Linked DNA regions of Homo sapiens: region 2 is linked to region 1. The links come from fine-mapping of genetic effects on gene expression. Tissue or cell type: whole blood. Region 1 holds a variant in brackets; the other region holds the start of a gene. All regions are shown on one strand. Distances are between the middles of the regions.

Evidence for each region. PIP is the estimated chance that this variant, and not a neighbour inherited with it, causes the effect.
Region 2: it holds the start of RTP4, and the variant in region 1 is fine-mapped to the expression of RTP4 in whole blood (INTERVAL, PIP 0.96).

Annotation. Positions count from the first base shown.
Region 1 is chr3:187,545,160-187,553,262 of GRCh38, reverse strand. No RefSeq gene overlaps it. Among named protein-coding and RNA genes, the nearest start is that of LINC02041, 100 kb to the right of the region's middle. The variant C/T (reference allele first, on the strand shown) is at 3,975.
Region 2 is chr3:187,365,298-187,370,297 of GRCh38, reverse strand. RTP4 (receptor transporter protein 4) reads right to left here and starts at 1,913. Exons shown (of 2, transcript NM_022147.3): 1 at 1,702-1,913. The coding sequence starts at 1,856. RefSeq lists an enhancer at 1,703-2,052.

The sequences.
Region 1 (8,103 bases):
CAGGTTCTCAGGCAATTGTGTTTTAAAATTATTTTCTACTTTATTAATTCTTCTGATTACACAAATAATGTAAGATAATCACACCAGTGAGACTATGCAAAATATATGAAGAAAATGTTTTTAAAAATATCCTTCAATCCACTCTCACTATAACCCCAAACTATTTTATACATGTTTAAAGGAGCTATGTATTTACCTGTAATAAGGAGGCAAAAGCCATCTGAAGTATCAAAAGTTTCTTTCGTTTTGATTAGAGTTGTATCAAATTGATGCAATTATACCGACTAGGCAGATGCTGACCCCAAGTTCTGATTGGCAGTTCTACACGCTACTGATAAATACAAGTGGGGAACATAATTAGTACTTAACTAACAGTTTGGTAGCAAAGTAAGAGCCCATGTGAGAAGAATAAAAGATATCCTTGAAGGCAAAAAGATCCAGAACTTATCATCATTTGCCACCTGGCCCAGCATCCATGGGCATATCTAACTTGTTATACTTTCAGTAAATCTATGTAGGTTCTGACTCATACTCAAGTGGTAACTCATCAGTCTTTCCTTCACAAAGGTGGCGCAGTCTGGGGATATGCCTGACAGAGGTAATGGGTTATTGATTTTCATATTGCCATTGAGTAACAGTCATATTCTTCTGCATCCCATTCTTGTGGTAACTATGAAAAAGTAAATTTCTAGACTTAATAGGCTCCAATAGTTATTATTAAGGTGACATTTATGGTTCTGGAGACTGTCAATTCTTACATAATGAAATTAAGAACCATCCACCATTAAGCTAGAAGGAGTCTAAACACTCTCATAGTGACATGCACCCATCTCTGTACTCCCAGCTCAATGCCAGCTGAGTCAAGACATGAAAAGATCATGGATTTTGGAATCCTGAATCGTATTCTTACTACCTATATATGGTTCCTTATGTGTAAAAGAAAGAATACTAACATTTTTCTTGGGATCACTATTAAATGAAAAAGAGGCATACAAGTTTGGTAAATACCCTTTTCCTCCCCCTGGGGTAAGTTACTGTACCTGCAATCTTCCTGTGTATCTTAGCCCTGGTCTGACATCAGCAAAGGAGAAAATATTGTTTGCCTATCTCCAGAGAAAGATAACTTTACACAGATGAAAGCAGAATTAGACTGAATTCTTCCATTAAATCTTCACAAGTATATTATATAAAAGTTTTGTAAACAAAACTTTCGGGAAGTGCTGAGATGGTAAAGTGACATAGCTTCCTTTATTGAAGGAATTCTTGGTGATACAAAGCCATTTGCAGAAAGACTAGGAATTCGCTTCATCCAACAGTCCTAAAAGGCTTAACCCATTCCAGCATCAACCCAAGGGCAAAATCTCATATGTCATCAACTCAAATGGTCCCAAATGCCATCTAAGTGAGGTATAGGTGAGACTCTGGATATGACCCATCTTTGGGTAAAATTCCTGTACATCTATGGATCTATGGACTAGGAAACAAGTTATATGCTTCCAAAATGGAGTGCTGGAGAGGCATGGAGTTAACATTTTCATTCTCCTAGGGAAGCAGGAGCCTAGGAAAGCCAGGGTGACACCATTTTAAAAATGACCTCATCTTTAAACTAGCAAAACACATTCTTTGCTGGCCACAACCAATGGTCATAAGATGTTTGCAGTTAAGGGAGCAGATTAATAATGAGGATATTATGTGAAGTAGTTTCCACACTTATTTGACTCCAGAAAATGTTTTTCATCCAGAATAGTTTGTTGGACTAGAAATATGAAGAAAATTCTTTGGGAAGAATGATCACAAAAAAATCCATATAGCTGGCCTTTTGCTTATTTGACTGCTATGTGCCTGCCTCATACAAGCTTGGTACAATTGATGGCTACTGTACACAACAGTTTAGTAATCCTGTATTCTGCGTTTCTCATATCAGGTACACAGGGGAGGGTTTAACATTGGAAATGGGTGGAGTTCTAAGGGGAGTAGAAAAAGTTTGATTTAAAAAGTCGTGAAGATTTAAACAAGGAGTACAAGAGATGACTAAGATGTTTGCTCAATGGCAATGAAGAAATACCCTTAATTTGTATTGAAGCCAAAAGTCAGATCTCTGTGACTTCTCTAGTGGTATCAGCTTGGATTCAGGAGTGGAGATAGCAGGCAGGAAGCACTTTGAGGTAAGATGGAAACCATGAGAGGCCAAAATCAAACTTAGACAATAAATGCCAAGATACATAATCTGCAAAGTATTACGTGCTCCTAATGGGCTGCAACAATGACTACTGCTATTATTGTTATAAAAACAACTTGTGCTAATAAAATAAAACATCAGAAAAAGATTCTAGGGTGATGGCAATAATGTCATTAAATGATTGACCAAAGGATCCATGCTAGATGGGAGAAAAGTAAAGTCAGAACTGACATAGGTAGACAAGGAGGAGTGGTTGACTGGAAATCACAATGAGAAAAAAAGCATCATAAAGGGAAATGAGATACCATATTAGAGTAAGTAAGGCTAATTGCTATAATAATATCCCCAACTCTAGTGTCTAAGACAGTGACAGTTCATTTTTCTCTTGAGAAATCTTGTGCTGATGTGCTAGCAGAGTAGCTTTCCTACAGGCGGTGACTCAGACTCAAGATCTTTCTATCCAATTGTTTATTGAAATCCTCAAAAAGGCTGAGTGGTTGGCAAGAGAAAAACAATAGAGATTATGCATTATCTGTTAGCAGCCAGTTGGAAGTGGTATATATCACTTTTGCCAAAGTTTGCTTCAAAGCCACAACTAGACATATTGCAATTGGGAAATATAGCCTTTCTTTGTGCCCAGAAGAGAAATAAAACGACCTCCTGAAAAACATAACATTGCCCCCACAACACACAGTCACTGCCCTCACAAGCTAATATTAATGAAGAGCCAGGCAATCATCATTCATTCAATGAGAGAGTCATAGAGTATACACTAGGTTCTACCGAGTCACAGGGTCAGGAGTGATTAATTCTGGCTAGGTGAGTCCAACAAAGCATTATTGAAAGGTCGACTTTAACCTGAGCCTTGAAGGATGCCTGGGAGGCCACCTAGCAGAAAAGGCAAGGAAGAAAATTTCTAATGGAGAGAGGAGCATTAGCCAAGACAGAGAACTTTGGAAGAACATGGCATTCTTTTATATACAGCGGGTAGTGGAGAGAACACTGGAAGGATGAGGCTTCGGGGAGAGGACAGGCCAGTTTAAAGAATGGAGAGTTAATTTTAGGGTAAAATGAGGTCCCATGAAAGATTGTAAAGCAGAAGGAAGATTGGCATGATGAGACTGAACATTAAAAGAATAGCTGAAGCTGAAGTAGAGGAAGCAGAAGTGTAGAATACTGGAGAAGAGCAATATGGAAAATATTTTACAGTCTTCTTAGAAGTAAAGGATGAAAACGCACATGAAGCCAGCGGACAATAGGCAGGATCCATCAGTCAGTTTTGGTGATGGCTGAATTAACAGACTTGACTTCCCACCTTCATCTCCCATTCACTGACTGGAGGCTGTTGACCCTAAACTGAAATCACCCCATCTTTCACCATCTTCTAACATCTATAACCCCTTTCTCATACCTCCTCCTTTCTGTTCTTTCCCAAGTAACAAAGGACTTCATTTTGTTTTCAAAAACCCTACCAAGTTGCTGATTAGTTGGTTAGTTTCTGGTAAGAAAGACTATAAGGATTGACTATAATAGTAGAATTTTGAGCACTGGAAATCTAAAAAGTACATTGATTTTTAACAGAACATTCTTTTATGTTTTCATGAATAAAGCCATCTATACAAGATGCCTCCTTTATTTCTACATATAGTGCTGTCACGAACCCTGCCTCATAGGCAGTAATGGCTTGTTTCATAGACTGCACATTCCTGGTCACTAAAAACTGTTATCTTTTTTAGAAAAGTATCAGTTTGAACCACAATGCCCTATCATTTTCTTCCCTTCCCAAGATGTCTGT[C/T]ATAGAAGTTTGATCAGTTTACATTGTCAATAATGTTGCCAAATTACTTGCAACACTGGAAAAAAGGGATCAAATAGCAAGATCAATGAGACATAGGGGAACCACATCTGGTGCTTTACATCAGTTGTCCACTAACTGCCAGTCTTAATTGGTACTGTGTTTAAAAATACAAATATTGCTGATAAGTAATGACACAAAGACATGCATTAATAAATGTGAAGTTCAGAGCTTTCTTTTGTGGCTTCATCAGTTTCTTTCCAGCTCCCAGACCCTTACCCTCTTCTGTCCCCCACAGACAACCATTGTTGTCTATTGTCTAAGAAGCATGCCATTCAGTCTCCAATGCAGAAGCTAGTCAGATTTTTCTATAGAAAGGCCATTTAGACTCCCACATAATAGGCTGAATATTAGCTTGAGGTTCTTGTGTGGATGGTTTAAATTGACTCTAAGTTACCAAGCTGTTTTCTAAGCATCAAATGACCACAAGGCATTATTACAGCACTCAAGACCCTTGAAGTTTTTAGTCTTAATACTTCTACCAATTGTACCAAGTTCTGCAATCAAGGAACAGAGGGGACAATCAGGTTCTGCAGAATGTCTTTTCAATCAATGTTTGTTGAATACTGTTGTAAGCCCAGCAGCATTCAAGATAAAATGGAATGGGAAGTGAAGATAAACCAAACTGTATATACACACAAGGAGTTTACCGTCTTGTAAGGAAGATACACACATATACTCCCGACAGAGATACACAATAGTATTGGAAGGATGGAGCAGAAGGGACAAAGTTAGGAGACATTTGAAAAATGGATTCAACTGGATTATGATACATGATTTTTGACTGAAATGCATTAAACATTTCCATAAGTAGGTACTTTGCTAAGCCCTTTCCATGCAAAATCACATCCAATCCTCACAATAACTCTATGACATGGGTATTACTATCCTCACTTACTTGCAAATGAGAAAACTGAAGCTCAGAAAGAAAAGATAGGCAGCTCTACCAAGCTTTAAAAAGGGGATAAAGTTAACATTTAAGCCCAGTTATGTCTGGTTCCTGAGTCTGCTCTCTTAACCATGATGCTATATGACTTTCTGAGATACTGGGGTTAGAGAAAGGGGAGATAAATATGTGGCTGAGTTTTCAAGTGAAGGCAATTACAAGAATGATGGTGTGTTTGCCACACAGCAGAGCAACTCCCATGTTCAGTTTTTATTATGAGGAGTTAGTTTGGGACCCAATTCAGGTGGTCTATACTCAGTAAATGAAAAGTGAATCAGTTTCCCTGAAAAATGAATGATTTTATTGAGCTGAAATTCACTTGATTTGGGAAAATAGAAAAACTTTAAACCCCTTTTGTTGAAAATACATGACTCTGGAGAAAAGTTAGCTTTTTTTTTTTTTTTTTGAGGTGGAGTCTTGCTCTGTCACCCAGGCTGGAGTGCAGTGGCAAGATCTCGGCTCACTGCAATCTCTGCCTCCCAGGTTCAAGCAATTCTCCTGCCTCAGCTCCTGAGTAGCTGGGATTACAGGTGCGTGCCACCACGCACGCTAATTTTTGTATTTTTAGTAGAGACGGGGTTTCACCATGTTGGTCAGGCTGGTCCTCAAACTCCTGAACTTGTGATCTGCCCACCTTAGCCTCCCAAAGTGCTGGGATTACAGGTGTGAGCCACCGCGCCCAGCCCTTATTCTAAACCTTTTATTAATAAGGATTCATTTAATTCTCATGATAGCCCCATGACATTGGTACTGTTTCCCCCCACTTTACAGATGAGAAAACTGAGGCAAAGAGAGGTTATGTTACTTTCCCAAGGTCTCTCTCATCTTGTAAGAGCTGTACTTGGTACTTGAGCTCAGGCTGATCTGATGTTAGAGTCATGACCACTGAGACTGCTGCATCTATTTCCAGTTGACGATGAAATGACCCAGAGCTACTGGACCCTTATTTGGAGGCTACCCCCAATTCCAGTTTCCAGAACCAACCATGTTTCATTTGGGGTTATTTTAAGGAAGCTTAGGTCAGTAGCTCAGGTTCATCTTGCTCTGCCCATGGACTGCTTCAGTTTTGGGAATCAGATTTTTCCTTTCTTCCTATAACTAAGCCCTTTTACATATTTCCTCTTGGGAAACTTTCTCTTCTTGGGCCCTATTCCCTTATAACCAGTAAGATGCTCTGCCAGAATACTTTTTCTAGGAAGCAGGCCTGCAAGGCTCAAAGCACTGCTTGCTCTTGTTAATCCTCAACCTGCCTCTAGGTTTATAGTAAACCCTAGAAAGATGGCTTAGGTTCTGCTACCCACTTACAAATTCCTTCTTGAATCCAATTCCTTCCAGATCTGCAGTCATGCTTTGTATTCAGGTTAGTATCCCATCACAATGTTTCAGGCAACCTTGGGGCAGCCCATGATCTCTTGTTAGGTCCCCTGGATGCCAGCTTTTGCGTGGATGCCTCTTGTCACTTGCCACCATGCCACATGCCACCATGATTTCTGTGCCACACCTTCTGAATGAAAGCATTTTCTAGAGCTGCTTCTCTCCTCCCCACCTCTCAGGTATTTATGCCACCTACCTTAGGTAGATCTAAACCCAGGGTTCAGATTCATGTAGGTAACTCTTTGATGTCGTACATTTTAACATAAATCACATGAGAGGGAGAAGGTGTAGGGGAAGCAAAGGAAGGAAAGGGTGCAGTGGGAGAGGCAAGAAGGAGATACAGAGGAAGAAAATGAAAGACTGAAGAGAAGGAATCAGGGAAGGAACTAGAGAGGGGGAGATAGAAAAAGAGTGAGGAAGAGTAGGGGAGACAATGGGGAGAAAAGAGAAGAGAAAAATGCAGCCACACCTTTTTAAAAAGTAGAGTTGAAAATATAAGAACACAATTAACCCTTCCCAGGTAGCAGATACTGTCTTTCCAGTCACCCAACAGAAGCAAAATAGTCACAATGGCTTCAAAAGTCCCACAGTTAAACTTGAACAAGTCGTGGAACTGTTTGACATACAGAATCCAAGAAGGGTTTCTCTTTGAGTGTTGTCACTACACGTTAGACTTCCTAGATTCTCCACTCCCAAAGGAGCCATTTAACCTCTGCTTGAATGTTAATGTTCTGTTGGGGAAAATTGTCTTATTTCCACTATTCTCACAAACAGTAGCAAGTATTTGGTAAATAAAGGAAATTTAAACAGCTTGGGGAGTGCCTATGCAATGCCAAAACCAACAGGCAATCTGATAAAAAATTTAATTCATCAAGCCTATTTATTGATCCTTTTATTCATTTGTTTGCTGAGCATCTGCTGGTGCAAGACAAGGTATGCATGTGAGGAGATCTTTAGCTGGACTCATGTTTTATCTGCCTTCAGAGAGACTTCAAGCTATTTTAGGATAGGGGACTTCACACGAATAATTACAACACAGGATAAGAAGGGATAACATGAGAAAGTGATGTGGATCTTACGAAGGGAAGGCCAAACTCAGTGGCTCACACCTGGAATCCCAGCACTGTGGGAGGCCAATGTAGGAGGATCACTTGAGACCAGGAGTTCAAGATCAACCTGGGCAACATAGTGTGACACTGTCTCTACAAAAACTGAAAATAAAAATAATTAGCCAGGCACAGTAGCATGCATTAGTAATCCCAGCTACTTCGCAGGCTGAGGACAGGGGATCTCTTGAGACCTGGAATTTGAGGCTGCAGTGGGCAATGATCAAATCACTTACTCGAGTCTGGGCGACAGAGCGAGACTCTCTCAAACTTTTTAATAAAAAAAAAAAGGAAGATTGTTTTTGGCTAGGAAAACAAAGGTGACACTAGAGTGAAACTTCAAGTTCACTGAAGTTGAACAGAATGCCATAGCCCCACCAGGGGAAGGAACACAAGTAAGAATAAAGGCCAAGTAGTAGAGAAGAAAAGTACACGCTCCAGGACCAGTGAACAGATTAGTATGGGAAGACTAACTAAAGTTATACCAATTTATTAATGGAAAATAACAGTTTCACTTTTCAGAGTAGTTGATGGTAAGGATAAATCAGAGGAGGGAGTCTTATTCTGAATAATTGTTTTTAGTTTTATTAAGATATTTAAATAGTGTTAGGATGTTTGAGGTGGTATAACTTAGTCTAGTTCTTCA
Region 2 (5,000 bases), 180 kb after region 1:
CTAATCTCAGGCCATCTGAAATTCAACTCATTTACCTGCTGTAACACGTTGCCTCTGGTGAGTAGTGTAGCTAATCTCTCACACCTGGAGAAACAGACTGCATCCCTCATACCTGGGTTGAAGATCCAGTTTACATCAGGAAGACCTTGGGCAAAGCCCTTCCCTTCTATAACCCTCATTGTTTGAATCCATAAAAAAAAAATTCAAGGGTTATATTGGCAGCATCAAAAGAGACGATGTATGTGAAAACACTTTGTAAACTACAAAATGCTTTTCAAAAGCTGATTGATATTTTCCAAAAGTACACTGGTAGGTTGCTTTTCCGATCTCGAAATGACAATCAAATCAAATCATCCCAACAGGAGAAACACCTTCTTTCTGTTTGGAGGAGTGCCAAAACGTTGTAAGACATCATGAGTCCCTCAAAAAGCTCTGGCTGGTGTGGACAGAAATATTTACACATTTCCCTGGATTAGAAAGCAGAGCAACATGACTGCTATACGGGCTCTGACAAGTGACTTGAGAACTGTTCTGGAGACGTTTAGGAGGCTTTATTTAAACAACAGATTCTGCAGCTAAAAATAAGCATATACTGTATTTGATACAATATATAATAATACATATATTATTTATAAATTTATTATTCTGAAATACATAGTACATATGTATATATAATTATATATCATTTATGTATACATATACATATATATTTTATCTTATCCCATTATCTTATGGGAATGTATACGAAGGAATACTTACTCTGCCTAGGAGAACCAGAGAATGCTTTTAGGAGGAGGAGGCACTAGAGTGGGCCTTGAAGGATGAGCAGGGAGGGGTGAGGGGAGGGTCTGCTGAACAAGCAGAACTCCATGAACAAGAGTGTGGAAGTCTGAAGATGCATGGCATAGCTAATAGTCCATAAGGAATGGAGTAGGCCATACCTGAGGCAGGATGGGGCAGGCAGGCAAGCTGAGTAATAGGTCAGATGAAAACTATACCGAAGGTCCTGTGTGTCATTTAAAAATAAATTTGATTATCCAGGTCAGCAATTCTCACCCTCCTAACATGGTCAAGGAAACTGGTTCCTGCAACCTGGAGGCTTGCTGGGGGTTAAAGAGGGAAGTGGTGAGTAAGGGAGGAGTATTACTTGGTGACTCCATGAACTGGGTTTTAGATTTAGTTTTTGCAACATCATTCTATACTATTATCCCCAGGCCTTCAGTAAAGCAATGTTCAGAGTAACTGCTTGATCTTAGCCAATTCTTAAGATATTTAAAAAAAAAAAAAAGGCTCCGTCCCAGGCTTGTACTGAACAGTGCCAAGGCTTGGAGAGCTGGTGCAGCTGGGGGAAGCTGGTCAGGACTGCTGGGGAGACTGCAAAAGACTCTAGAGGTAGTCTGGAACAAATGACGTGGTGAGAAACTAGAAGGGAAAATTTATGGAATAGGGAGCCTTCTCCAGGGTTTTCCAGAAATATTTACGGAGGGAAACCTAGTAAAAGAAGAAACTTCCAGCAGTTAAACAAAATGGAGGTTTGGAGTCGTCTTATCATGTCGACCCTAAAGAGTACTATGACCACAATAGGATGGAGGCCCTGGTGACATTTACTCCTTCAACAAGCTCTCAGAGGAATAAATCATGCTAAGCTGAGCCTGAGCCTCTCTTCTCAGAAGAGCTATTGCCTGGGAAACCCACACTCACCAGCCAAATGCTCTCTGTTGGTATTGCTTCCACCCTTGAGCCAGGCAGTCTAGCTGAAGGTTGCCATCCAACTTCAGCGTCCATGTGGCCCGGGGTTTTGCCTCTTGGATTAGTTCTTGAAATGTCTGCTCCCAAGTCCAGAAATCTACAACCATTTTTTCCCTCTGAAGCTGAGAGAGTAGCTTTCAGGTTTGCTCGTTTCTCAGGAAGAGACAAACAGTTTCAGTTTCGGTGTTCGGTTCAGTTTCTGTTTCTGTGTATGGACATGAGCTGTTTTTTTCAACCTTCATTTTAGACTGTCTGAGTACACAGAACAAGTCTTTGTTCTGAAAACAGACAGCAGCAAAACTGTGTTAGTTAATAGGCCTTGCTGAGAGAGAGATAAAGAGCTCTGTTCTAGATTCTGGGGTCACATATAAATTCGCTTTTATTTTCTCTCTCTCATTTTTTATAATAGGCAAAGTGAGAGGTGACAGCATGCTGGTAGCCCTCGCAGCCCTCGCTCGCTCTCGGAGCCTCCTCGGCCTCGGTGCCCACTCTGGCCGCGCTGGAGGAGCCCTTCAGCCAGCCACTGCACTGTGGGAGCCCCTTCCTGGGTAGGCCAAAGCCAGAACCGGCTCCCTCAGCCTGCTGGGAGATGTGGAGGGAGAGGCACGGGCAGGAACCGGGGCTGCATGCAGGGCTTGCAGGCCAGCTAGAGTTCTGGGTGGGCGTGGGCTTGGCGGGCCCTGCACTCGGAGCGGCCGGCAGGCCCCCAGCCCTGGGCAGTGAAGTGCTTAGCACCTGGGCCAGCAGCTGCGGAGGGTGCGCCAGGTCCCCCAGCAGTGCCGGCCCACCGGCACTGAGCTCGATTTCTCGCTGGGCCTTAGCTGCCTCTCTGTGGGGCAGGGCTCGGGACCTGCAGCCCGCCATGCCTGAGTCTCCCCACCCTGGGCTCCTGCATGGCCCAAGCCTCCCCGACGAGTGCCACCCCCTGCTCCATGGTGCCTGGTCCCATCGACCGCCCAAGGGCAGAGAAGTGCGGGCACACACGCAGGACTGGCAGGCAGCTCCACCTGCTGCCCCCGGGGCGGGATCCACTGGGTGAAGCCAGCTGGGCTCCTGAGTCTAGTGGGGACTTGGAGAACCTTTATGTCTAGCTAAGGGATTGTGAATACACCAATGGGCACTCTGTATCTAGCTCAAGGTTTGTAAATGCACCAATCAGCACCCTGTGTCTAGCTCAGGGTTTGTGGATGCACCAATCAGCACCCTGTCAAAACGGACCAATCAGCTCTCTGTAAAACAGACCAATTGGCTCTCTGTAAAATGGACCAATCTGCAGGATGTGGGTGGGGCCAGATAAGAGAATAAAAGCAGGCTGCCCCAGCCAGCACTGACAACCGGCTCGGGTCCCCTTCCACGTGGTGGAAGATTTGTTCTTTTGGTTTTTGCAATGAATCTTGCTGCTGCGCAGTGTTTGGGTCTGCTCTGCCTTTATCAGCTGTTAACACTCACCCGGAAGGTCTGCAGCTTCACTCTTGAGCCAGCAAGACAATAAACCCACCAGAAGGAAGAAACTCAGAACACATCCGAACATCAGAAGGAACAAACTCTGGGCACTGTGCCTTTATGAGCTGTAACACTCACCATGAGGGTCGGTGGCTTCATTTTTGAAGTCAGTGAGACCAAGAACCCACCAATTCCGGACACAAAAGCACTGTTTTTGGCACTGGGAAAAGAGTATCCTGTAGCTAAGAAACAATTCCTGCCCCCACAGATGCTCACACCCAGGTGGAGACAGGGAGGTTAGGAGCAGCGTAGGGGAGCACGTGTTTAATGCTCATCTCCTACACCCCATGTATCCTCACCAGTCCCGCGAAGGATTATTCTTGGAGTTTTGCAGGTTAACTGCACAGAAAGCTGGGGTACTTTGTCCAAATCCCCTCAGTTAACGAGCAGTGGAAGTGAGACTTGAACCCGGGTCTGTGTGACTCCAAAACCTGCCATGTGTCCGCCCACCTCACTCCCTGAAGAGAAGCTGAGAATGGCATTTCAGGTTCCAGGCTGGCACACTGGAGCCAGTGTCAGAGGAACCGTAGGGAGATTTCCTGGGTCCTGAGGCAGGAGGTCAGCTGCATGAAGGGATTATCAAACTCTGCCCTCCACTCTGTAAATTATGTGGAAGGGCAAATACGCACAGGTGTGGGGGCCGTCTTTCAGTGGTAGGATACAGAGAATTCCCATTTTGGGGTAAGGGATTGAGATGAGATGACCTTTAAAGACACTTGTAAGTCTAAAACGCGGAGATTCCAGAGAGTAAGCTTTGTCCTCCTGGGGCTTAAATTCAAATAGGGGAGATAGGACAAGCAGGATGCTTACTTAGGTCTTTAGAACACCCGCTACAGCTTCTGTGTCTGAGACAGGATCAGCCTCAGTCTTCCTGGGTTTTCTAGGCTTCCATGTGCCCTGTCAGCGACTCAGAGACACCCTCTCTCTTTCCTTCCCTTCCTGGATACCTGTGTCTATACACATGATATAGGAAGCTCTAAGAACTTGTAATTGGATCCACAGGATGTTAGAGTTGGGAAAACCCTTAGAAATCAACTTATCCCTTTTCCCTTTAATTTTTATACACGAGAAAACTGAGGCTGGGCACCGTGGCTCACGCCTGTGATCTCAGCACTTCGGGAGGCCAAGGAGGGTAGATCACTTGAGGTCAGGAGTTTGAGACCACCTGACCAACATGATGAAACCCCATCTCTACTTTAAAAATTACAAAGTCAGCCAGGCATGATGGCGCATGCCTGTAATCCCAGCTACTTGGGAGGCCAGGGCAGGGGAATTGCCTGAACCCAGGAGGCAGAGGTTGCAGTTAGCCGAGGTCATGCCATTGCGCTCCAGCCTGAGTGACAAGAGCATAACTCCGTCTCAAAAAAAAAAAAAAAAAAAAGAGAAAAGAAAACTGAGACCCAGAGGAATAAGGTCTCTTGCCTAAGGTCACACAGCAAATTAGTGCCAATACAGGGCCTGGCTTCAAGTTCTGCTCTCTTGCTCCACCCATGCATAAATCATTTCTCTACCCTTTCTCTTCACTTTCCGCTGGGTTTAGGATCCCAAGTCCACTCTACTTATTCTGTATCTTCAGAGTGTACCTTCAGAGAGTCCCCTTACCCCTGACACCTCAAATGCTCTGTTTTTCCCAAAAGGTAGCTTGATCCGGCGCATTGCATGCCTTCATGATTTCCTTCTGCCTCTTCTTCATGTGTGCCCTTTGATATACCCAATTGTTCAGGTCAGCCTGGTCCTTTGCATGGGGG